Linked DNA regions of Homo sapiens: all the other regions are linked to region 1. The links come from fine-mapping of genetic effects on gene expression. A gene starts in region 1. Each other region holds a variant in brackets. All regions are shown on one strand. Distances are from middle to middle.

The links. PIP is the estimated chance that this variant, and not a neighbour inherited with it, causes the effect.
Region 2: its variant is fine-mapped to the expression of SCAMP2 in whole blood (INTERVAL, PIP above 0.99).
Region 3: its variant is fine-mapped to the expression of SCAMP2 in whole blood (INTERVAL, PIP above 0.99). The same link has a PIP of 0.9 or more in testis.
Region 4: its variant is fine-mapped to the expression of SCAMP2 in unexposed skin (GTEx, PIP 0.94).
Region 5: its variant is fine-mapped to the expression of SCAMP2 in whole blood (TOPMed, PIP above 0.99). The same link has a PIP of 0.9 or more in blood mononuclear cells and lung.

The regions. Positions count from the first base shown.
Region 1 is chr15:74,870,644-74,875,743 of GRCh38, reverse strand. It overlaps SCAMP2 (secretory carrier membrane protein 2), which reads left to right and starts at 2,379. Exons shown (of 9, transcript NM_005697.5): 1 at 2,379-2,545. The coding sequence starts at 2,489. RefSeq lists an enhancer at 4,196-5,100.
Region 2 is chr15:75,065,579-75,070,678 of GRCh38, reverse strand. No RefSeq gene overlaps it. Among named protein-coding and RNA genes, the nearest start is that of PPCDC, 45 kb to the right of the region's middle. RefSeq lists enhancers at 581-680, 761-850, 861-1,120, 1,181-1,290. The variant T/C (reference allele first, on the strand shown) is at 3,071.
Region 3 is chr15:74,902,120-74,907,219 of GRCh38, reverse strand. It overlaps MPI (mannose phosphate isomerase), which reads right to left. Exons shown (of 8, transcript NM_002435.3): 8 at 5,001-5,100. FAM219B (family with sequence similarity 219 member B) reads left to right here and starts at 369. Exons shown (of 5, transcript NM_020447.5): 1 at 369-633; 2 at 855-942; 3 at 1,989-2,066; 4 at 2,508-2,556; 5 at 4,434-5,100. The coding sequence starts at 420. The coding sequence ends at 4,601. RefSeq lists enhancers at 27-306, 148-952, 953-1,759 and a silencer at 367-666. The variant A/G (reference allele first, on the strand shown) is at 2,969.
Region 4 is chr15:74,930,263-74,935,362 of GRCh38, reverse strand. All of the region lies in intron 1 of COX5A (cytochrome c oxidase subunit 5A), which reads left to right. Among named protein-coding and RNA genes, the nearest start is that of COX5A, 5.3 kb to the left of the region's middle. The variant G/A (reference allele first, on the strand shown) is at 2,518.
Region 5 is chr15:74,841,302-74,846,401 of GRCh38, reverse strand. ULK3 (unc-51 like kinase 3) reads left to right here and starts at 3,246. Exons shown (of 16, transcript NM_001099436.4): 1 at 3,246-3,398; 2 at 3,982-4,122; 3 at 4,207-4,327; 4 at 4,893-4,997. The coding sequence starts at 3,297. SCAMP2 (secretory carrier membrane protein 2) reads left to right here. Exons shown (of 9, transcript NM_005697.5): 8 at 809-929; 9 at 1,185-2,672. The coding sequence ends at 1,319. RefSeq lists a silencer at 2,765-3,484 and enhancers at 2,747-3,658, 3,727-4,252. The variant G/A (reference allele first, on the strand shown) is at 2,299.

The DNA of each region.
Region 1 (5,100 bases):
AAACCCCAAACCCACAAAAAATAAATTAATAAATGTGTATCATGTGCTTTATACTATGTTAGTGACAGAAACACAACAGTGAGCAAAACAGACCTCAGCCCTACCCTCATGGAGCTTTCAGTCTAGCGGAGGATACAGGCATAAAGAACCACCTATACTAGTATTAATTACAATCTGCAATGGGTATTGTGAAGGAAAAGTACAGGGCAATAGGAGAGCTTATGTTGGGTATGAGGTGATGATGTAACCAAGAGAGTGAAGGGAAGCTACTCCTGAAGAAAGGCATCTGAACTTGCATTTAAAGGGTAAGGAGAGGTTAACCAGAGGATGATAGTGGGGCATGGGTTAAGTGCATACCAGGTAGAAGGAACACATGTGTAAAGGCCCTGAGACAGGAGGGCACAAGGAAGGTTTGAGCAACTGAAAAGAACTTGCATGGCTGGAACAGTGGGTGGGGGTTGGGGGCTAGAAGGGGTCAGAAGGGGAGAAACGTAGGGGCAGATCCTTTAGGACCTTGAAGACAAACTAAGAATTTGGGCCTTTATGATTTTTTTTTTTTTTTTTTGAGACAGAGTTTCACTCTTTTTGCCCAGGCTGGAGTGCAATGTTGCAATCTTAGCTCACTGCAACCTCCGCCTCCCAGGTTCAAACGATTCTCCTGCCTCAGCCTCCCAAGTAGCTGGGATTACAGGTGTGCACCACCACACCCAGCTAATTTTGTATTTTTAGTAGAGATGAGGTTTCACCATATTGGCCAGGCTGGTCTCGAACTCTTGACCTCAGGTGATCTGCCTGCCTTGGCTTCCCAAAGTGCTGCGACTACAGGCATGAGCCACCTTGCCTGGCCTGATTTTTTTTTTTTTTTTTTTAACTGAGACAGGGTCTCACTCTGTCACTCAGCTGGAGTGTAGTGGTGCAAAGATGGCTCACTGCAGCTTTGACCTCCTGAGCTCAAACAGTCCTCCTGCCTCAGCCTCCCAAGTAGCTGGGAGTACAGGCACAGGCCACCATGCCTAGCTAATTACGTGTGTGTGTGAGATATGTATATGTATATATATATATATATATATATATATATATATTTTTTTTTTTTTTTTTTTTTTTTTGTAGAGCCAGGGTCCTGGTATGTTGCCTAGGCTGGTCTCGAACTCCTGGCTTCAAGTGATCCTCCTACCTCTGCCTCCCAAAGTACTGGGATTACAGGCATAAGCCACGCACCCAGCCCTTTATGGAAATTAATTGAAAAATTTTAACAAAGTTCTGTGATAATTTTGCCCCCTTTAAACATATCTTTGATTACAACATGAAGAACAATAGACCAATTAACAGCACTGTATTAGTTCAGGGTAAAAATGACAGTGGCTGGGATTCGGTGACAGCAGAGATGAATAATACCAGACAGATCCAAATAAATAAGGTGGATTTGGCCAGACAGTGGTTCATGAGTATAATCCTAGCATTTTAGGAAGCCAAGGCGGGAGGATCACTTCAGCCCAGGTGTTTGAGACGAGCCTGGGCAATATAGTGAGATCCCCATCTCTACAAAAAATCCATAAATTAGCTGGGTATGGTGGTGACCAGCTGTAGTCCCAGCTACTCAGGAGGCTGAGGTGGGAGGATTGCTTGAGCCCAGGAGCTCGAGGCTGCAGTGAGCCATGATTGCACCACTGCACTCCAGCCTGGGCGACAGTGAGACCCTGTGGGGGGCGGGGGCGGGGGAAAGCGGAGCTGTGGAGAGTGAAGCAGCCACCTCCCCCATGATTGAGGCTGTGTTGCTGAATTCCGTGAGTCACTTCATAAATGTTTGATGTCCAGGTTCAAGTCCCAACTCAGGTCCCAAAGCTGATGGGCCCAGGAACCCTCGTCCCTAAAACGATGAAACGACATCAGAGGGCGAGCAGCCCTAGAAGAAGCAGGCTCAGCTCGGGTGGAGGACTGCTGGATGGTCCTGGCACTTCTCTTTCCCCGAGCACGTTCTGCAGAAGAAGCGCTTTCCTAGTTCTCCCAAGGCCTCTGGCCTCACCTGTCACCCCTGTCCTTTGCCCAGGGATCAGTTTGGACTTCTTCCCAAACTTGGTCTACAGAGAAGTGAAGGGGCTGTTTCCTGTCCCACTTTTGAGAGTTTGCTTTAGAAACATAAAATTGGAAGGTGTCAGATTGATAGGCAGTTGGGAAGGACTCCGGCCACGCCTCTGGCTCCGTAGACGCTCCGCGCAGCCAAGACCCCTGAATCCCCAGCAGAGCGAAGATGTGGACGGAAGCCGAATGCCCACCCACCGCACTATTGTGGGCTGGGCGGGGGGGGGGGGGGGGGGGGCGGAGCGACCCCGGTGCCGTCATAGGGCCACGCCCTCGGGGGAGGGCATCGCGCCTGCGCCAGAACCGCTGCCTCGCTCCCGGAAGTGGAGGGTCTACACGAAGCGCCGCTGGGTCTGGGTGCCCGGAGGCAGCAGCGTTCGCGGAGTTCGCCCGCTGGCCCCCGATCACCATGTCGGCTTTCGACACCAACCCCTTCGCGGACCCAGTGGATGTAAACCCCTTCCAGGTAGAGCCCCTCTCCCGCCATCCAGCTCTCAGATTTCCCTAGGGCCCACGGCCGCCGCCCGGGCCTCTCGCTAGAGCCGGGAGACGTGGCGTAGGAGGGACGGGTCATCTGCCCAATGGGAGAGCGGGCTTTGAGGTCTGGCCTATCGTAACGCGTGAGGGGCGCGACTAGCAGCAGGTGGAACTGCAGAGGAGGCGGGGCGCTGAAGTGTTGGAGACAGTGGGGTCTTCTAGCACCCGGAGGCTGGGCTGTGCTAGGGAAGGGGACTGGAGCAGGTACGGTCGGACCCTTCCGGAAGTCTCCTAGCGTCAGGGAGAAGCGAAATGTGGCTATCGCATTCCCTCATTCTTGGATAGACACCTGTCTTGAGTCACTTTAGAAGAGGGGGTGACAGCAACATATGAGGAGGTGGTGAAGCCTCTGGTGGAGGGGAAAAATGTGGGAAAAGCCCAGGACACCTGCCACCGCTCCACCACCAGCCAAACTAGTGTATAAAGTACAGGAGAGCCCCTGAGATTTGTCAGGGAAAGAAAGATGGGAGAGGGCGGGAAGGTAGCCCAAGTTGAAAAATGGCCTTGATAAGAATTCCACATTTTGGCCATGGGTCTAGTTTGGAGTGGGTTTTGACCAGATAGGAGAGCCCGGGTTAGGGAGAGAGGAGAGGTGCGGGGGACTGTGAAAAATTCTGGACCCACAGGGAACGTTTGTCTGATGGAACTGTGTGTGGTGGCAACATAGTTGAGATGCACTGACGTGTGAGCTGGCCTGACTTTTTTTTTTTTTTTTGAGACGGAGTCTCGCTTTGTCGCCCAGGCTGGAGTGCATTGGCACGATTTCCGCTCACTGCAACCTCTGCCTCCCGAGTTCAAGCAATTCTCCTGCTTCAGCCTCCTGAGTAGCTGGGACTACAGGCGTATGCCACCACACCCAGCTAATTTTCATACTTTTAGTAGAGACGGGGTTTCACCGTGTTGGCCAGGCTGGTCTCAAACTCCTGACCTCAGGTGATCCATCCGCCTCGGCCTTCCAAAGTGCTGGGATTACAGGTGTGAGCCACCACGCCTGGCCTGACCTTTTGAACAGCAATCAAGGAAGAAACAATCTTCCTGCTTTCTTTCTTTTCCTTTTTTTTTGTTTTGTTTTGTTTTGTTTTTTGAGACAATTCTTGCTCTGTCGCCCAGGCTGGAGTGCAGTAGCGCGATCTCGGCTCACTGCAGCCTCAGCCTCCTGGGTTCAAGTGATTCTCGTGCTTCAGCCTCCCGAGAAACTGGGATTACAGGTGTGCACCACCACACCCGGCTAATTTTTGTATTTTTAGTAGAGACGGGGTTTCACCTTATTGGCCAGACTGGTCTCAAACTCCTGGCCTGAAGTGATCCACCCACCTTAGCCTCCCAAAGTGCTGGGATTACAGGGGTGAGCCACCACACCTGGCCTCTTTTTTTTGAGACAGAGTTTTGCTCTTGTTGCCCAGGCTGGAGTGCAGTGGCGCGATCTCGGCTCACTGCAACCTCAGCCTCCTGGGTTCAAGCAATTCTCCTTCCTCAGCCTCCTGAGTAGCTAGGATTACAGGCATGCACCACCACGACCGGCTAATTTTGTATTTTTAGTAGAGACGGGGTTTCTCCACGTTGGTCAGGCTGGTCTCGAACTCCCGACCTCAGGTGATCCACCTGCCTCGGCCTCCCAAAGTGCTGGGATTACAGGCATGAACCACTGCGCCCAGCCCTCTTTCTTCCTTTTTTAAGGCAGGGTCTCACTCTGTCGCCCAGGCTGTAGCACAGTGGAGGTCATGGCAGCCTTGACCTCCAGGATTCAAATGATTATTTGAATCCCACCTCAGTCTCCTGAGTAGCTGGGACTACAAGAATGTGCCACTGGGCCTGACTCCTTTTAAAAAAAATTTTTGTAGAGAAGGGGTCTCGCTGTGATGCCCAAGCTGGTCTCGAAATCCTGGTCTCAAGCAATCCTCTGGCCCCAGCCTCTCAAAGTGCTATGATTACAGGCATGAGCCACAGGACAGTCTTCCTACTTAAAGCCCACACCTTTCTGCCTTTCAGCTGAGAGCACAGGGATGATCTTTTTCCACCATGAGGGGCTGAACTGTTACCTCCAGAGCTCCTATGCCTCTTGTTTCACGTCTGCTCAAAACCCGTTCTAGGGAAGCTTGTTTGTGCTGACTGGTGAATTATGAGCCCTGATATTCTGCTCTGTCAGGATGTCACCAGGCACATTAACTCACCCTGCTTGTCCTTTATTTTGGTCATTGGCAGCTTTTAAGTTTCCTGCAGGTGTCAGAGAAGTCCTTGAAGGAGTCCTTCCTGTCATTCACAGCATGAGTTTTCCCACTTTGAATCGCTTCAAGGGTCAGAGCAAAATCAAAGGAGACTTGAACTAAATAATTATACGCTGTCAGGAGAGTGAAAATGTTTTGCTTCTTTCTTGGTCTCAAGGTGTCTTAGCCAACAGGAGCCCTCAGGGCAAATTCTGATAGCTTGTTCCTTAGAACATCAGGGAATTCTGAACATTCCTCTCGTAGCTTAATGTTTCTTGAC
Region 2 (5,100 bases), 190 kb before region 1:
TTTCTGAGGGACAACTGGGCACAGATTCTGGAACACTGTGAATGAACTCTAAACCCCTCCATCTAATGGGCCTCAGGGGCACTTCCTACGAGCACTGCACCATGCTAGGTTGGCAGGGTGAAACAAAAACAGCAAACAGGAGGGGTCCCGGCCCTCTAGCTAGTTGGAATGTAAGGCAATTATCTGCCAAGTATCCCACAGTAAAGCTGTGGGAGCCTAGAGGACAGAGCTTTTTGGGAGAATGGGCCTGAAAAAGTTCTCGAGCTTGATCTGGGTGGTGGTTCACAGGTGTGTGCACCTCTAAAAATCCATCATGCAGGCCAGCCAGGTGTGGTGGCTCTCACCTGTAACTCCAGCACTTTGGGAGGCTGAGGTGGGCAGATCTCTTGAGCCCAGAAGTTCGAGACCAGCCCAGGTAACATGACAAAACCCCATCTCTACAAAAATTAACTGGGCATGGCGGCACAATCTTGTATCCTAGCTACTCAGGAGGCTGAGATGGGACGATCACCTGAGCCCAGGAGGTCAAGGCTGGGTTGCAGCGAGCAGTGATTGCACCACTACACTCCAGCCTGGGTGACAGAGACAGACCCTGTCTCAAAAAGAAAAAAAAATCCATCACGCTGTACACTTAAGATGTGTGCACTTTACCATATGTGTTATACTTCAATTTTTTTAAAAAACTGTAACTGGCCCTGGTCTCAGAACTCAGCAGAGAGTAGACAGGCCAAGCGGGGAGTGGAAGGTAGGTGGCAGGACCTCCAGGGAAGCCAGCTCTGGAGGCCCGGTGATGGCAGTGGGAAAGAGCCATGGGAATGAGTTGGAGCCATTACCAAGAAAGAAGGTGAGGGCCTGGGGACTAACATAACATCAGAGACAGAGGCAGCCAAGAGTGAGAGGTCTGGGGTATGAGAGCCAGGGCAGCCTTCTGTTTGGGGAACACCCAGAGACGACTGGGAAGTCCCAGTCTGCACACAGTTGAAGGGGAAGTGGAAGAGGGATGTGTTGACTTCTCAAGTTTCGAATAGGTGAGGACGGTATGGCTGACAGTTGGAGGGTTCAGAGCACCAGAACACACTCAGGACTCTGAAAGGCAGGCCCCGGGAGATAACTTCAGAGGGTGACTAGCAGCAGCCAGCCCATGGGCCTGAGACCACCACTATTCCCAATCCCTGGTTTCCCCCAAAGCAGTCTGAGCAGAAAAAAGACCTGAGTCCGCCCCAGACTAGCCTGGGTCAGCCCCACCATTTGTGAGGTCCAAAATCCTGTGTTTGGGGGACATGTGTGGTGAGTCTCCAGCACGAAGGTGGAAGGGAGGGAGCACACAGTAGATGCTCGAGCAATGGCAAGGACTGATTCTAGGCCACCCATGAAGCTAAGCAGGGGCCCTCTTCACACCTCTAGTCCTCCAGTGTCTCCTCAAACTTCCCCAGAGCAGGAGGCTCACTCCCTCAGTCACTCCCTCCATTTCCATAAGCTCTAGGTGCCAGGACATTTTCCTTCTCTGGGGCTGAACTTTGCCTCCAGGTCATTTCTCAGAGTTCTAGGATAGACTCTTGTCCCCTGAGGCTGCTCTTCCCTGCTCATCCAGCCTGGCTTTTGCAAAGCCTTCAGCATGCTGGCTCTTCTCCTGCAGATGTTGGGCAGCAGGGGCCCCAAAAGGACCACAATCCTTCAGATGCAGTCTGAGCCAGAAGGAGGAAAAATCACCTCCTTTGACCTGCATGCTATACCACTATTAATGCAGCCCAAGCTATTAGCTAAGGAGGCTACATGCAGTGTGTGGTTATCATTTACCTGATGGGAAAAAGAGGGAGTTCTTGTTTCCCAAGTACCACCTTGGCTTCCCAGAGCCTCTCCATGATCCCCACCCAGTCCCTGCCTCACTGGGCCCCTACTCAATCTGCCCTCCTTCACCCACTGCACTCTGCCCCACTCACAAAACTTTTATGTGCCCCAGCCAGCTCTTCCCCTTCCCACATTTGCACATGTAATAGCCTGGGTCTGAAATGCCCTGGTTCATCTTCCCCTGGCGAACTCCTGGTCACTCATCTTGCTTCCACTTACCTCCTCCAGGAAGTCTTTCCTGAAAACCCCTGCCCTTGCCTAAATTAGGCTCCAAGGTTATCCCCTCTCAGTACCCCGTACTTTTCCTCCATGGTGCTTATCAGGGTGTCTACTCTTCCTTACCTGTGGGCAGCTATCTCAGAAAGGACCCTGAGGGCAGGGAGCATGTGGATTCTTTTCCCCACTGTGTCCGCAGCACTGGGCACAGTGCCTAGCACAGAGCACATATACATACAGTAAAGATGGACTGAGTGGACCTGTAAATGAGGCATCCTTGTTGATCTGGTTATGCAAAGCCCTCGACTGCTACACCACTCCATCCTCCCCAGGCTGAGCGAGAGGATGCAGTGTCAAGAGAGTGTGCTTTGGGGCCGGGCACAGCAGCTCACACCTGTAATCCCAGCACTTTGGGAGGCTGAGGCGGGCGGATCATGAGTTCAGGAGATCTAGCCCATCCTGGCTAACACGGTGAAACCCCATCTCTACTAAAAAATACAAAAAATTAGCCGGGCATGGTGGCAGACGCCTGTAGTCCCAGCTACTCAGGAGGCTGAGGCAGGAGAATGGCATGAACCTGAGGGGCAGAGCTTGCAGTGAGCCGAGATCAGCCACTGCACTCCAGCCTGGGCGACAAAGGGAGACTCTGTCTCAAAAAAAAAGAAAAAAATTCTGGCAGTTATTTGGCAGGGAGCTCTTGGACAGATGTAGTTTATTCTTTAGGGGTCTCCAGCTTGGAGTTACCCACCCCATGTTTACTGTCCAGCCCTGAAATTGGGTAGTCCACCATATATTATCCCAGCTGGGGTAGGGTGATGCCCTACTGTAACCTGTATTTGGTTTAGGGCAAAGATATTTATCTGCCTGTGAGATCTGTCTCTGATTTTTTAAATTTCCACAAGGTAAAACCTGGCAGGCATTAAATCTTATAGTCTGGGGTGCTACTGTCTTGGTCACATTAATCACCAACCTGACTGGGTAGAGAAGAGTCTGCTGCCAGTTTCCA[T/C]TTTGACCTTCTGCTCTTTGTATATTAGCCCATCCCAGCCATGTTAATTTCCAGAAATGGGGCCAGCTCATGTTTTCTTTTTAGATTTTTCTTAGAGTTCACTTTAAGGGTTCCTTAAAGTTAAGAGTTAAAGTTAGACTCGGGCACTTTCCACTGATCTTTTTCCCTCCCTTCCGGGATCTCTTTTACCAGTCCCTTGACTCGAATATAGTGAGTCCACCTCCATTCAGCTGTTTGCAGGGCCATCTCAGTGGTCAGGAGCACTTGATAGGGACCTTCCCAGCTTGGGTGGAGCTTGTCTTATTTCCAAGTCTTAATCAGCATGAAGTCACCAGGCTGGAAGTGGTGAACCACAAACTTAAGAGGTGGAGTTTGAGTTAGAAGTCTTTTTAACCTAAGGGATGACAGGGTGGAGGATATGGCCAGTATATAATTTCTTAAGAATTGATCCTTGGTTTCCATAGTAGGGAGATCTGTAGCTCTGCCTAAATACAGGAGCCCATATAATAACTTGTAAGGGAACAATCCCAAGTCTTTTATTGGAGCTGTCCTAATCCTGCAGAGTGCTATTGGGAGACATTTGGTCCAAGCATTTTAGTTTCTAAGATTAGTTTGGTGAAATGCTTTTTGAGAGTTTGATTCATTCTTTCTACCTTTCTAGAGGAAGGGGGATGCCAAGGGGTGTGATAATCCCATCTAATTTGTAAACCTTCCATAATTCCCCTTAACACCTTTGAGGTAAAGTGGCTCTCATTGTCTGAATCAATATTTTTCACCAGGCCAAAGCTAGGTGCAATCTGTTCTAATATAATTTTGACCATATACCTGGTGGTGGCTGTTGGGAGGCAAAAGGCTTCCACCCAGCTGGAAAGGTGATCTACGATCACCAGTAAATACTTTCGTCTTTCTACTTTGAGCATTTTTGTAAAATATACTTGAATGCTTTGAAATGGTCTTAGTCCAGGAGGTCTTCCTCCTGTGGCCTGTTTTCTAATTACCTTTTGGTTTATCCTTTGACAAGTTACACAATTTCCACATACTTGTTTAGTGAGGGTATAAGTCCCTATACACCCATAATTCCTAATGTTATAGGAGGCAGAAAGAAATTTAGGTAGACAAGGTAAAGTGAGTCCCTGGCAGAAAACTTTCCTTCTATTAAAAAGCAGCTCAGAAATAGCTCCCTTTCTAACCTCATGCAGTTCAAAGAAATTACTTCTCTTCTAACAAATGGCGCCTGAAAGCTCAGCCTGTAAATCACAGATAAAGAGCTCAAGCACAGAAGGAGGGGGGTTGGGGGGGATCGAGATTCGGGGGAAGTCTCCTGGGTAATCACCAAACTTCACTCTCATACAATGGGCCCCAGTAAAAACAGTGGGCCTTAATAAGCACATTCCTTTCCCTTTAGGCACACTAAGATAGGGAAGCTAAAAGTGGACTGGGGTGTGGGGGTGGGTGCCTGAAGCTGCAAGATACCTGGAACAGACACAGATACTCTCCCTCCCAGATAAGTGACACAATTAGGTAAAGGCTGATAGAAACTCTGCTCTAAACAGATAGCACATCTGGTCACAACCAAATCATTGGGCCCTAGGAGGATAAGACATCCCCTCCTCACTAGCCCCCTCCTCACTAGCCCATTTATGAAAACTCTGACATTTTTATTGCAACTTGGCAACCGGCTCAGGACCCCCCCTTCAATGCAGAGCTGGTCCCTCCCACGGCCACGAAATTCCTACTCCAAACCCACTCCACCTGTGCAACCCCAATCTCCCCAGCTGCAAGACCAAGAATCCTGGCATCCACCCCAGCCAACAAGGCTGCCTCACTAAGTATTGCATTACACAGAGCCTGGGGTCCCCAGTGACTCCCTTTGTGTACTATAGACATTAGTTCTTTTATCAGGGGTTTACTCACACTAGCTCTCTCACACTGTCTACCTTTATTTCAGCTGTCTGCTCCTGCTCTGCGACACCTGCCACCCCCCAACCTGCAGCTGCACTTCCTGGCCCACAAGGCCAGCTCTTAGTTAC
Region 3 (5,100 bases), 31 kb before region 1:
TGACTCTTCAACCCAAGTCTGCTCTCTGGCAGCCCCACATGTGGGGAGACCCCCAAGGAGACACTGCGAGAAGCACAGAGTGCGGCGCGCCAGGACTCAAACCGTGGGCACCCGACCGACGCACACGCGCAGCCCCACGACAGTATCAGTATTTAATTTCCACTAGAGACAGAACTAAGCCTAACCATCACCAGGCTCAAGCCGCCTACCCCAAAACCGAGAACGGAACTGCCCGGTCCCCCCGAAAAGAAGGGCGGAACATTTCGGCCAAGTCCTCAGACTACCGAACCGGAGAGCTCCGAAAGGGGACTACCTGCGCCTGCGCACCGCCATCTTGTTAAAAGAGCCCGCCTCTCCCTCGGCCGGTCACTCTTTCGCCACGGGCGGGGTTGCACCATCCGGCAGGGCGGGGCCCGGCCATGGCGACCGCGGAGCCCAGCGGGCGCGCGTTGCGGTTGTCTACCCCGGGACCCCGGCCCAGCGGGGCTCGGGACCGCGCGCCGGGAGCTGCGGGGCCACCCTCCGGGCAGATCGGTAATAGAGCCCTCCGTCTGGGGGAGCGCACCCCCGCGGCCGTGGAAAAGCGGGGGCCATACATGGTGACGCGCGCACCCTCCATTCAAGCCAAGCTGCGTGAGTGTGGCCCGATGGTCGGGGGAGGTTTCTCCCTGGGCGGGCGGCCGCGTCCCCAGGGCGGGTTCCGGAGCTCCGCTGGGCCTCGGCCCCGGAGGGAAGGGGTTAGCTGCAGCCTGCTCTCGCCCCTCAAAATCCGTTCGGAAAGAGCGGCCTCCCAGCCTTCGGGAGACGCGGCGGAGTGGGGAAGACCCGGCTGACCCGGGTCCTTTAACTTCCAGAGAAGCACCGGGACCTGGCCAAGGCCGTTCTGCGGAGAAAAGGCATGCTGGGGGCCTCGCCGAACCGCCCAGACTCTTCAGGGAAAAGGTCTCAGCAGGCGCCACCTCCTCTGTGCCAGCAGCTTTAGAGAAGGCTTTAATCCCCAGGACGGAGGCAGGGTGCTCTGGTTTAAGGCCGAGCTAGCGATTCCCCTGATGCAACCTGTCAGGTTCACTATCTTTAAAATGGGAAGAGGAACAATCTCTCTTTTCCTTTAAGGATGTGATAGGATCAGATAAAGGGCTTCGGAATAAGGGAGTTCTGTGAGTGCACAGGCTCATTCACTATCATTCTCCTCCTCTGTTAGGGAGGAGAATGGTGGCTGGAGTCCCCAGCAATGAGGACGAAGAGCAGTGTGGGAATGGCTAGACCTGTTTTTGTTTGTTTGTTTTTAACAGAATAGTAAACTCGGAGCTGCATAGAACCTTATTCAGTGCCTCCTTTTACAGATGAGGGTTGAAACTCGGAGAAGTGAAGGTTAACCCTAACCTTTTACCCAAAGACTTGCAGTTTTTGTGTCCTCTGATTAAATAAGTGGGGAGAGGGTGCTTTTCCTAGATCAGGCAAGGGGAGGTGTGCTTTTTTCCAAGACCTATGGGAGGAGTAGAATACAGGCCGGGCGTGGTGGCTCACGACTGTAATTCCAGCACTTTGGGAAGCCGAGGCGGGTGGATCACTTGAAGTCAGGAGTTCGAGACCAGCCTGGCCAACATGGTGAAAGCCCGTCTCTATTAAAAATACAAAATTAGCTGGGCACGCCTGTAGTCCCAGCTACTCAAGAGGCTGAGGCAGGAAAATCACTTGAGCATGGTAGGCGGAGATTGCAGTGAGCCGAGATCGCGCCACTGCACTGCAGCCTGGGTGACAGGGCCAGACTCTGTCTCCAAAAAAAGAAAAAAAGAATGAGAACATACACATTCTGAGGCACTGTAGCCAGGTACATGGAGCTGCAGGCAGTGGTGGCTGTGACCAGGGAGAAGGCAAGTCAGTAGTGCAGTCAATTCTTTCTCCTTCAGGGCGAGGACTCTGCCTATCCCTGTGAAATGCCTATGCTTTCATCTATGTTTGGTCTCTTCTCCCCCGTCTCCCCTCAGGTCAGTGAAGTTTAACAAGGGCTATACTGCTCTTAGCCAGAGTCCAGATGAAAACCTGGTGTCCCTCGACTCTGACAGGTGAGTGCTCCCCTTGGAAATACCCCCTTGGGAAGCAACTTGGCTGGGACTGAAGATCGCCTGATGCCTTTGCTTGTTCCCTGTCTCCTCCAAGGCCCTTCATGTACATTCCAGGGCCGTTCTCTTCTGAACAATATCCCTTCCCAGGATGGCTTGGTTAGAAGACTCATAGGTAATCGTGCTGCTCTAGAATTCGGAGCACCAATGTCCGGGGGATCATCCTGCCCTGTTATGTTTGCATTGTTAGTGAGAGTGACCCTGTCCCTGCCAGAACCAATTGAGGGAACCAGTATTATTCAAGGCCTGTTCGGACTTGAGTTCTGTTGTGTGTGGCCTTTGCTTCAAAAGTCTTCCAGATGCCCTTGCATGCTCTCCGCCTGATGATTTACAGCTGTGCACCACAGGTACCTCCCGGAACTGACTGTTTTCCTCTTCTCCTAGTGATGGGGAGCTGGGATCCAGATACTCCTCCGGGTATTCATCTGCAGAGGCAAGTCCAGAACACCTTTCTGTGCAGGGCCAGGCTGCAGGCAGCATTACCACCACTGCCAAATGCTTGTTTGGTGCCCGCTGTGAGCACAGCACTGTGCCAGACTTCTGGTCTGTTCTACGATCTTCCACTCTGCCCTCTTCCCCCGGTGGAGGTATAGGTGACCAAGGAGGGCTGTTGAGAATCGAGGAGACCATTTAGACTCAGGGCTAGAAATGATCTCAGAAGTCATGTAAGCTGGGCATGGTGGTACATGCCTGTAGTCCCAGCTACTAGGGAGGCTGAGGCAGGAGGATTGCTTGAGCCCAGGAGTTCCAAGACCAGCCTGGACAATATAGCAAGACCCTGTCTCTAAAATAAGACTCTAAAATAAAAGTCTTCTAGGCCACAGCTTACAAAAGGAACCCTTTTG[A/G]TAGATCCCAGCTAAGTGTTTGCTAGTCTGTGCTTACTTGAATGCTTTTTGTAATTGGGTACTGACCACCTCCAAGGAGCCTTGCTACCCACCCTTCCCTCAACACACACAGAATTTTTTCTTTGAGTAGCTGTTAGAGAAATCTTCCTTATTAATCTGAATGGGTCCATTGGTCCTTGACCTGCTTTCCAGTGTCACACAGCAACTCTAGTTTCTCTGAGATCAGCATTTCCGTCTCTCCCCTGCCCATCTTTCACCAAGCTTGCTTTCTTCCAGACCAAACAACTTCTGTTTCTTCAGTTGTTCCATCTATGAAAACTCAGGCTAAAACACTCCTGGGATAGCCATGTAGACATTTTTCTAGAGTGACTGTCCCAGATAGAAAAACAGGGATGTAAAATCCTGGCAAGTGAAGCCCATTCCCTTTGACAGAGGTGAAGTGCTGGGGACCTGACTCTACACCACTTGCTTTTCTTACTCTCCTGGAAATCTTGGCTAATCTCTGAGTTTCTGTCACAGAGAATAGAGCAGTTTGCAAATTTTGTCCTCCTTAAATGTCTGAGTGTCAAAGATTGTGTGTAAGAGGAAGTCTTACACTTTCCCCAGCCTCATTTATTTTTCTTTTTCTTTTTTTTTTTTTTTTTTTTTTTTGAGACAGAGTCTCACTCTGTGGCCCAGGCTGGAGTGCAGTGGCATGATCTCAGCTCACTGGAAGCTCCGCCTCCCAGGTTCACGCCATTCTCCTGCCTCAGCCTCCCGAGTAGCTGGGACTACAGGCGCCCGCCGTCACGCCTGGCTAATTTTTTCTATTTTTTAGTAGAGATGGGGTTTCACCATGTTAGCCAGGATGGTCTCGATCTCCTGACCTCGTGATCCACCTGCCTCGGCCTCCCAAAATGCTGAGATTACAGGCGTGAGCCACCACGCCCAGCCTTATTTTTCTTATGTTCAGTGAACTGATGAAACCAACCAACAAATTCCACTTTGCAGGAACCCACCTCTGTTGGCATCAAAGGATAAGTCTAACCAGCAGTGTGTAGACAAAGCTGCTCACCACCCCCTTCCACTGTAACCCATGCTCTACTACGCTAGCCCATTGTTCTGTTATTATCCCATATTCTTCAGCTTTGATAGGGACTAGTCTGGGCTCCCAGTGGGAACTGTCAGAGCACTGATTTTCAAACATATTGGGAACTCGATATTTACATGAATGCCTCAGGATTTAGTGAGAACAGATCCCTGGGGGTCAGTGACAGTGAAGTCTGGACAGTACTAAGGCTTACTGCTGGCTGAGGCACAAGTAGGAGAAGGTGGTACTTCCTCCTGTAGTCCAGGGATGTGTGGGGTTGGCCTGGGGTGGGACATGGACAGGAAGCCCTGGTAACGGAATGTGGTTCTGTCTTTTGGGTAGCAGTTACTTCTGCTTTGCATCTTGGCCTATAGTTCCCTCCTCTCCTTCTCTTAGCAGGTGAACCAGGATGTGAGCCGGCAGCTGCTTCAGGATGGGTATCACCTGGATGAGATTCCAGATGACGAGGACTTGGACCTCATCCCCCCTAAGCCCATGGCCTCTTCAACATGCTCCTGCTGCTGGTGCTGTCTTGGGGACTCTTCTTCCTGTACCCTCCAGTAGACATTACCCTCCAAGGTGGGCCCTGCTCACCATGAGGCCTACAGAGCCCTGTTGGCCACTCATAGCTCACACAGTGCAGTGAGCACTGAAGTCACTGACCCCTAGAAAGTGACCTGCAGGTAGCCCTTACCTGTTGCTTCTCAGGCCAGAGGCCCCCATCTGGGCTGTGGGCTGATAGGTAGAATTCTGTAGTTTTCCTCTGCTGTTGGAGCAGAGTTTGGAGAAGTCACTTTAATAAGGGCAAGACAGAAAATTCTGGTTCTTATGGTGGGTGACAAAGGTGGCTAAGGAAAACACTTGCAGACAGCTTGATTGGTATTTGTCATAGTGCTTCAGGGAGGCAAAAAGGGAGCTCTTGTGCCCAGGCTGTGCTAGATAGTGTTGAATGGAGGCAGAAAATAGCACTTTATGGTTTATTATAGCTGGCAATCCAAAAAAGAAACTGTTTGAGACCAGTTCGAGAAATTCCGTTTGCTCTATTCTTCCTAGCTCTAAGATG
Region 4 (5,100 bases), 60 kb before region 1:
CACCATGCCCAGCCAAATTTTTCTTTTTCTTCTTCTGTTGTTGTGGTTTTGTTTTGTTTTTGTTTTTGTTTTTGAGACAGGGTCTCGCTCTGTCATGCAGGCTGCAGTGCAGTTGGCACAGCTCACTGCAGCCTTAACCTCCTGGGCTCAAGCCATCCTTCCACCTCAGCCTCCCAAAGTGCTGGGATTACAAGCGAGAGCCACTGCACCCAGCCTCAGTAACTCGTTAATGTGCCCTCATTCCTACAGTTACCACCACCAAAGTGTTCATTCTTTGGGCCTGTCAGGGTTGATTATTTATTAAATGGAAAACTATCCGATTTAACTAAATTTAAACCCAAAGGATCAATGAGCCCTTTTATTTTTCTATATATGTTAGCCTTTTTTGTTTTTAAATGGAGTGCTTAACTGAATGCCAAAAAGCAGTGTTAGAAATAGCTTTTTAGGATGAAGCCCTAAAAATGTCCTCATTTTTCACAGCTGCTTCTTTTTTCTTACTTTGGGACTTTCAGGTTACGTAAAAGCTCTGAGTAATTGTTTTCCAAAATAATTTGCCTTTCAAGCTTCAATACTAGGTGGAGATCCTGTTCTTAAGTGGGGTGGGGTGTGTGGGGCAGAGAATGCTAGTAGAGTTTACCTAAAAAAAGTTAAGCATGTGGGGGATGTGTCCATAGCTAATAGAATAGATCCTGCTTTACCCATTATTGGATTTAACAATATAATTTAAATCATGGCCGGGCATGGTGGCTCACGCCTGTAATCCCAGCACTTTGGTAGGCTGAGGCGGGCGGATCACAATGTCAGGAGATCGAGACCATCCTGGCTAACGCGGTGAAACCCCGTCTCTACTAAAAATACAAAAAAATTAGCCGGGCGTGGTGGCGAGTGCCTGTAGTCCCAGCTGCTGGGAAGGCTGAGATAGGAGAATGGCGTGAACCTGGGAGGCGGAGCTTGCAGTGAGCTGAGATTGCGCCACTGCACTCCCGCCTGGGCGACAGAGTGAGACTCCATCTCAAAAAAAAAAAAAAAATTTAAATCACGTGGGGAGAGTCTGTTTTAGCCCTTCAGAAAGGGATGTATGGGTTTTTAAATTTTTATTTATTTTAATTTGTTTGATATAGAGTGTTGCTCTATCACCTAGGCTAGAGTGCAGTGGCGCAGTCATAGCTCACTGCAGCCTTGTTGCCCTGGGCTCAAGGGATCCTCCCGCCTCAGCCTCCTGAGTAGCTGGGACCACCAAACCCCGCTAATTTTTTAAGTTTTTTGTGGAGAATGGAGGTCTGTCTTTGTTGCCCAAGCTGGTCTCTCAGTCCTGGCATCAAGCGATCCTGCCTTGGCCTCTCAAAGTTCTAGTTCTGTTTTATAAAAGACTTTTTGGAATACAACCAGTTTGTAATTTGGCTTCCAGAAGACATATGATCAAATCCTTGAAGGTGGTGATCTCCTTGACTTGGATTTGCTGTTGGTGGTCATCTTATTCACAGTTAGGAAACAAAGCCTAGCACTCATGTAGTCAAATCCATGCCCAGCAGTGAACAAAACGAATTGCTTATCATGAAGCACTGTTGTGGATGGGACAGGTAATTACCTCTGGGGAAGGAGTACATAGACCTTTCATTGGGTAAATACTTAGGAGTGGAATTACTGTGTTATATGGTAGGTTTGTGTTTAACTTGATAAGAAACTGCTTAAACCGTCTTCCAAAGTGATTGTATCATTTTATACTTGCACTTTCAGTATTCAGTTAAGGCTAGCTTTAGTTTTTGAAGAGGTGGCTTATAATTTTTTCTTTTTTGAGACAGGGTCTCACTCTGTCTCCGAGGCTAGTGCCACTGCATCTGGCCCTAAGTTCTTGATAATAGTGCATTAGATGGTTGTTCTAATCTATGTTTTTACATAGATAGATAGATAGATAGATAGATAGATAGATAGATAGATAGATATTTTTTTTTTTGAGACGGAGTCTTGCTCTGTCGCCCAGGCTGGAATGCAGTGGCACGATCTTGGCTCACTGCAACCTCCCTGGGTTCAAGCTATTCTCCTCCTTCAGCATTCCAAGTAGCTGGGACTACAGGGGTGTGCCACCACGCCTGGCTAATTTTTTGTATTTTAGTAGAGACAGGGTTTCACCATGTTGGCCAGGCTGGTCTTGAACTCCTGGCCTCAAGTGATCTGCCTGCCTCAGCCTCCCAAAGTGCTGGGATTACAGGTGTGAGCCACCGCACCTGGCCTTGTTTTCTGATATATTAAATTTGAATATTAGTCTTGTAAGACTTATTAAATATCCACGTAGTTTTGATTAAATGTTCATACTTACCAGACATATTTAGGTGTAGAGATCCATTTTTTTCTTGTTGTAGAAATTAAGGCTGGGCACCGTGGCTCATGCCTGTTATCCCAGCACTTTGGGAGGCCGAGGCAGGCAGATCATGAGGTCAAGAGTTCGAGACCAGCCTGACTAACATGGTGAAACTTTGTGTCTACTAAAGATACAAAAAATTAGCCTGACATGGTGGC[G/A]CATGCCTGTAATCCCAGCTACTTGGGAGGCTAAGGCAGGAGAATCACTTGAACCCGGGAGGTGGAGGTTGCAGTGAGCCGAAATCGTGCCATTGCACTCCAGCCTGGGCGACAGGGTGAGACTCTGTCTCAAAAAAAAAAAAAAAGAAATTAAAACGTGTTCACTTCTAGTCCATTTATGTACATGTTCCACTTCATTCTGGGCTTGGATTATGTAGGTAATTTAGGTCTCTGGGAAGATCTTTTCTGCTTCGTTTTTTTGCTACTCTTCCTCCTGCCAGTTACTGCATTAAAGATATATAGGATATTACTAATGTTTAAATTTCAGTGTTCTTAGAACAACAATGTTGAGAGGTTTCTGGGTGAAGTTTTTAAAAATATATATATATGTATGTTAAGGCTGGGCATGGTGGCTCACACCTGTAATTCTAGTATTTTGGGAGTGGTAGGATTGCTTGAGGCTAGGAGTTTAAGACCACCCTGGGCAACATATCAAGACCCCCATCTCTAAAAGTAAATAAATAAAAATATGTTAAGCCTTAAACAACTGGAAGTTACACCACACTTATCTAATACAGGTAGTAGGAAATGTGATTTGAGATAGGTTTCATTTCTTTAAGTTATGATTTCTATAAATAGACAACTAAGACGTTTTTAGATAAGGGTTAGTTTATAGCTACCATTTGTTTAATACTTACCAGTGCATAGTGTTAACCTACCTGTTTTCACATTTAATCTTCATAATCTGCTAAGGGGGGTAGCGTCCCCATTTTACAGATAAGGAAAATAAACTTAAGTTAATTTTCCAGGGTCAAACAGAGAGAGCGAAGAGCCTAGAGGTATCTGAGTGCTAGGTTGTGCTGCATTCAATACCCAAAGATAAAATTTTCTGCCTCCGCCTATCCCCCTACCTGTTCCAGAGGCTGTTCAGAAGGAATTCAGATTTCCAAACTCAATTCAGTGTCCATTTGACAAGAAGAAAGAAAAAATGGGGCTGGGTGCAGTGGCTCGCGTCTGTAATCCCAGCACTTTGGGAGGCTGAGGTGGGCAGATCACTGGAGGTCAGGAGTTCGAGACCAGCCTGGGCAATGTGGTGAAATCCCGTCTCTACTCAAAATACAAAACTTAGCCAAGCTTAGTGGCGCTCGCCTGTAGTCTCAGCTACTCAGAAGGCTGAGGCAGGAGAATCACTTGAATCCAGGAGGCAGAGGTTGCAGTGAGCTGAGATTGTTCCACTGCATTTCAGCCTGGGTGACAGAGTGAGACTCGATCTCAAAAAAAAAAAAAAAAAATGGAAATGCTTTTCATACAGTACTCTATGTAAACATCATTTCTTTTTTTCTTTGAGACAGAGTCTTGCTGTGTCGCCCAGGCTGGAGTACAATGGCATCATCTCACCTCACCTCAACCTCCGCCTCCTGGGTTCGAGTGATTCTCCTGCCTCAGTCTCTCGCGTAGCTGAGATTACAGGCGCCCGTCATCACGCCCAGCTAATTTTTGTATTTTTAGTAGAGACGGAGTTTCACAATGTTGATCAGGCTGGTCACAAACTCCTGAACTCAGGTGATCCACCAGTCTCAGCCTCCCAAAGTGCTGGCATTACAGGTGTGAGCCACTGCGCCCAGCCCAAAATATTCCTAGTAAAACAGTATTATTTTGCATTAGGTGTAGATTAGAGTGTACGTTCCCTTAGGGGATTTATCAGAATATTTTGGGAAGGGGCTGTAGTTTGATAAAGCAATTTGTATGTGTAATTTGTCAGGATGTGTAATTTATTTTGGAATATAATAACATGAGAATTTTTTTTTTTTTTTTTTTTTTTTTTTTTTGAGACAGAGTCTCGCTCTGTTGCCCAGGCTGGAGTGCAGTGGCGTGATCTCTGCTCACTGCAAGCTCCGCCTCCTGGGTTCACGCCATTCTCCTGCCTCAGCCTCCCAACTAGGTGGGACCACAGGCGCCCGCCACCACACCTGGCTAATTTTTTGTATTTTTAGTAGAGACGGGGTTTCACCGTGTTAGCCAGGATGGTTTCGATATCCTGACCTGGTGATCTGCCCATCTCGGCCTCCCAAAGTGCTGGGATTACAGGCGTGAGCCACCAAGCCCGGCCCGAGATTTTTTTTTTTTTAATGTGTGAATGAAGTATATAAGTTTATTTAAGAACTTGAATGGTGCCAGGGCTGGTGGCTCACACCTGTAATCCCAGCACTTTGGGAGCCAAGGGAGGAAGGAATGCTTGAGCCCAAAGAATTTGAGGCTGCAGTGAGCTGTGATTGCGCCACTACACTCCAGCCTAGGCAACAACAGAGCGAGAGCCTGTCTCAAAAAAAAGAACTTGAATGGACATTAGTATTGCTCTTAGTTTTTTTTTTTTGTTGCTTTTTTGGTTTTTTTTGTTGTTGTTGTTTATTGTCTTTTTTTTTTTTTTTGAGGCGGAGTCTCGCTCTGTCGCCAGGCTGGAGTGCAGTGGCACAATCTTGGCTCACTGCAACCTCCGCCTCCTGGGTTCAAGCAATTCCCCTGCTTCATCCTCCCGAGTTGCTGGGACTACAGGCACGCGCCACCACACCCAGCTAATTTTTA
Region 5 (5,100 bases), 29 kb after region 1:
TGATCACAGCTCACTGCAGCCTTGAACCTCACGGGCTCAAGTGATCCTCCTACCTCAGCATCCCAAGTAGCTGGGAGCATAGGCATGTATGACCACAGCCAGCTAATTTTTTTTTTTTTTGAGTTGGAGTCTCGCCCTGTCACCTAGGCTGGAGTACAATGGCATGATCTCGGCTCACTGCAGCCTGCACCTTCCAGGTTCAAGTGATTCTCCTGCCTCAGTCTCCCGAGTAGCTGGGATTGCAGGCGTGTGCAACCACGCGCAGCTAATTTTTGTATTTTTAGTAGAGCAAGGTTTCTCCATGTTGGCCAGGCTGGTCTCAAACTCCTGACCTCAAGTGATCTGCCTTCCTTGGCCTCCCAAAGTGCTGGGATTACAGGCACGAACCTGGCCTTTTTTTATTTTTTATGGAGACAGGGCCTCCCTCTGTTGCCCAGGTTGGTCTTGAACTCTTGGGCTCAAGCGATCCTCCTGCCTCAGCCTCCCAAAGTGCTGGGATTACAGGTGAGAGCCATAGCACCCAGCCCGGTGCTACTTCTGACTCTGTGAAGGCAGCAACCACATCCTCCCTTTCAGACCTCACATAACCAGAAGATTCCCCTTGTGAATGGGGTAGTGTGGGCCTGTCAGCCTTCACGGAGGTCTGGCCTCACAGGCCAAGGGCTTCTGGCTCACAGGGCTCCCTGTGCTGTGGGGAGATGCCAAGGTGATGGTCAGGACACAGCAGCCACTTGGAGAAGAGCCCCTTATGCTGACTTTTGGAGCCCACTCCCACTTTGCTCCCTCTGGCCTCTTCTTCCCTTTATAGCGGTTGGATTGCAGCCCTGTCTACACTGGATAATCATTCCCTGGCCATATCAGTCATCATGATGGTGGTGGCTGGCTTCTTCACCCTCTGTGCCGTGCTCTCAGTCTTCCTCCTGCAGCGGGTGAGTGGTGTGGGCAGGGCTGACAGCAAATGGGAGGAGGCAGGCAACCGTTTCCTGCCCTTGCCACGAGATGTTTTTCACCACTGCAGTTGGGCATCCTAGGCCCCCAAAGGTCCAGTACCTTTCTCCAGGGATCTGGGTGGGGGGTCAGGCAGTGCCAGGCTTCTGGTGACCCCTTTGGGAGTATAACCTGGATGGCTGGCTTCCTGGTGGGCCCAAAGGACAGGCTTCTCTCACCCCACCCCTCTTCGCCAGGTGCACTCCCTCTACCGACGGACAGGGGCCAGCTTCCAGCAGGCCCAGGAGGAGTTTTCCCAGGGCATCTTCAGCAGCAGAACCTTCCACAGAGCTGCTTCATCTGCTGCCCAAGGAGCCTTCCAGGGGAATTAGTCCTCCTCTCTTCTCTCCCCCTCAGCCTTTCTCTCGCCTGCCTTCTGAGCTGCACTTTCCGTGGGTGCCTTATGTGGTGGTGGTTGTGCCCAGCACAGACCTGGCAGGGTTCTTGCCGTGGCTCTTCCTCCTCCCTCAGCGACCAGCTCTCCCTGGAACGGGAGGGACAGGGAATTTTTTCCCCCTCTATGTACAAAAAAAAACAAAGCTCTCTTTCCTTCTCTGGTGATGGTTTGGTAGGATTCTTTTGTCTCTGGAAGCAGTGGGACTGAAGTTCTCTTCGTCCTGTGCACACACAGACACCCCCACACAGTTGGGATCACAGGCTGACCTGGGCCCATCCCAGCTGGAGCTTTCTGCCAGGGTCCTGGGCCTTGACTCCCCCACCCTGCAGGCCTGGCCTGAATCTGGCTTCTTAGACACAGCCCAGTCCTTCCTGCCTGGGCTGGGAATAAGCCTCTCACAGGTTCTGGTGGACAGATCTGTTCCCCAGGTCACTCCAGTGGTCTCCAGGCTTCCAGAGAAGGCTGGTTGCCTCAAGCTCTTCTCTGCCTCATAAACGGATCCAGAGAAGGCTGGTTGCCTTAAGCTCTTCCCTGCCTCGTGTTCCTGAGAAACGGATTAATAGCCCTTTATCCCCCTGCACCCTCCTGCAGGGGATGGCACTTTGAGCCCTCTGGAGCCCTCCCCTTGCTGAGCCTTACTCTCTTCAGACTTTCTGAATGTACAATGCCGTTGGTTGGGATTTGGGGACTGGAAGGGACCAAGGACACTGACCCCAAGCTGTCCTGCCTAGCGTCCAGCGTCTTCTAGGAGGGTGGGGTCTGCCTGTCCTGGTGTGGTTGGTTTGGCCCTGTTTGCTGTGACTACCCCCCCCCCTCCCCGAACCGAGGGACGGCTGCCTTTGTCTCTGCCTCAGATGCCACCTGCCCCGCCCATGCTCCCCATCAGCAGCATCCAGACTTTCAGGAAGGGCAGG[G/A]CCAGCCAGTCCAGAACCGCATCCCTCAGCAGGGACTGATAAGCCATCTCTCGGAGGGCCCCCTAATACCCAGTGGAGTCTGGTTCACACCCTGGGGGGTGTGTCACTGTGATGGGACACGTAGGAGTCCACCCTTAAAACCAGCACCCTGTCCCTCGAGGCTGCCGAGTGGGTGTGTGGACTGGGGTGCCTTCCCACAAAACTAGCCTCCGGCTCTGGGCCCGAGACAGCCGCAGGCCCCAGCCACTGAATGATACTGGCAGCGGCTGGGGTTTTATGAACTCCTTTCTGGTATTTTTTCCCCTCTATGTACAAATGTATATGTTACGTCTCAATTTTTGTGCTTAAGTAAAAATAAAAACATTTTCAGACAACACGGGTCCACATGTCTGGTGGACTTGGGAGGACGGGGCAGCCCACAGGATTAGGGGCTGGGCGCCGCTGCTAAGATTGGAGAGCGGGGACAGTTAAGATGCAATAAATAGGTCAAGGCCCTTCCTCAGAAAAGTGAAAAGCAGCTGGGAGGCCTGGGAAGCCAACGCGGCCTCTTCCAAAGGCGCCTTCTCGTGCCAGTAGCTCTCCTTTCAGAGCTGCGGGTCCTGGGGAGGGGCCCTGGGAGCCTCCCGGACGCCGTCGCCCCCACACACGCCCGCTCCGCCGCCCGCGCCCTCACGTGGGCGATCTCTAGACGCCTCTGCGCCCGCTAGGAGTCCCCGGAGACCACGCCGGCCGTCCTCCGTTGTTAACTTCTAGGCTCGCGGGGCCTCCGTATCCCCACGTGGGCCCTGCAGGAACTGGCGGGGCGCGTGACCCGGCGAGGCCCAGAGACAGGGGAGGGGCGCCGGGAGCCGGGCGGATCCGCGTCCCCGATGCGCGCTGCATTTCCGGCGGGCGGCGCTGGGGGCAGCGTGGAGCCACCCAGTGCTCGGCCCGCCCCGCAACCCGCCGGAACCGCCGCCCGCAGCGAGGAAGCGCCCGCGCGGGCGCAGGCGGCCGGAATGGCGGGGCCCGGCTGGGGTCCCCCGCGCCTGGACGGCTTCATCCTCACCGAGCGCCTGGGCAGCGGCACGTACGCCACGGTGTACAAGGCCTACGCCAAGGTGGGTGCCGGCCGATGGCCCCGTGCCCGCCCGAGCTAGCTCGGCTGGTGCCGGCCGGGGAGACTCTGAGAGGTTAGCGACAGTGTGGGAATAGTTAGGGGCGGGAGGCCGGCCTCGCCCCAGCTGACCCTCGGCGGAGGTTGGAGCCGACTGCCACGCTTAGGTCTTAAAGAGCGCACCTGCACCCACCTGCAGGGTCAGTGGCTGAAGAACAGGCTCAAAACAGGTTACCTGGTGGGCTGGGAGGAGTCTGGGACTGGAGCCAGTTGGGAGGCAGAGTGGGCGGTTCTAGAACCCTGAGTGACATGCCTCTGCCGGGAGCACTCCAGAATGCAAAGAAATGGATCAGCTAGCCGAGGGTTGGAGAAGACCAGGCTGAGGCTGTGTCGGGAAGCCAGGATTCCAGAATCAGCATTCCTCACTGGCCTCACAAGGGAAAGCTGGGAAGCCCGGTGCTGGTGTGCAGTAGGTAGACCCGGGGAGGGGCGGGGTGGGGGAACAGAGGGAACCAGATAGAGCCTTTCCAGTCAGACAAGGGTCCTGGCCCCCTCAAGGCAGAGTCCCCAAATCTCCTGTCTCGCAGAAGGACACTCGTGAAGTGGTAGCCATAAAGTGTGTAGCCAAGAAAAGTCTGAACAAGGCATCGGTGGAGAACCTCCTCACGGAGATTGAGATCCTCAAGGGCATTCGACATCCCCACATTGTGCAGCTGAAAGACTTTCAGGTGTGAGCCTGGGGCGGGGCCGCTGCCAAAGGGAGCTGGAGAAGGGACACTCTCTTCAGGCCGCCTCTCTGCCTCTAAACACAGTGGGACAGTGACAATATCTACCTCATCATGGAGTTTTGCGCAGGGGGCGACCTGTCTCGCTTCATCCATACCCGCAGGATTCTGCCTGAGAAGGTGGCGCGTGTCTTCATGCAGCAATTAGGTAAAGGCCTGTGACACCAGCCTGACACTCTGTCCCTTGTTCTCTGCCCCCCACCATCCCACCCCTCCCCCAGGCTTAGAGCCTTGGCACGCATTGCAGCTGCCTCCTGCACAGCCTGAAATTTTATGGTCCTGTTTATCTCATACACTCAACCCTTGCTCAAGGACGCTGTGGGAGAGATGAGGGGGTAACCCCTCTGTGGGGTGTTCAGGCTTCCATACATAGAACATAATATAAGGACCTTGTAGAACATTCCAGAGTCCTGTAGGTAGGACTCAAGTGCTGTGCCAAGGAAAAGAGCAGGATCTCAAGGGCTGGGGCATCCAGAGAAGCTTCTGAGAGGTGGGGAGACTTGTGAAGGGGCAGAGGGAAGGAGGGTGGGCACTCGGGTGGGGTGGCAAACTCCTAGAAGTGGTGTGATCTTGGTGCTTATATGGAAAACATTAGACCAGCCAGGCAGGAACTGGGGTTGTGCAGGCTTGAGGAGGCAGATGTGAGCCGGGGAGGCGAGAGGCAGGCGGGAATGGGCTCTGAACTGTCTCTCTTCGTGGGTCCTGCTCCTCAGCTAGCGCCCTGCAATTCCTGCATGAACGGAATATCTCTCACCTGGATCTGAAGCCACAGAACATTCTACTGAGCTCCTTGGAGAAGCCCCACCTAAAACTGGCAGGTCTGTGTCTGAAACAGCAGGGATGAGGTTTGGAGAGTGCAGAGGCCTCCCTCTGCCTGGGCTCACTCAGCAGCCCTGGTTCTTATGGAGCCCTCTATAGAGT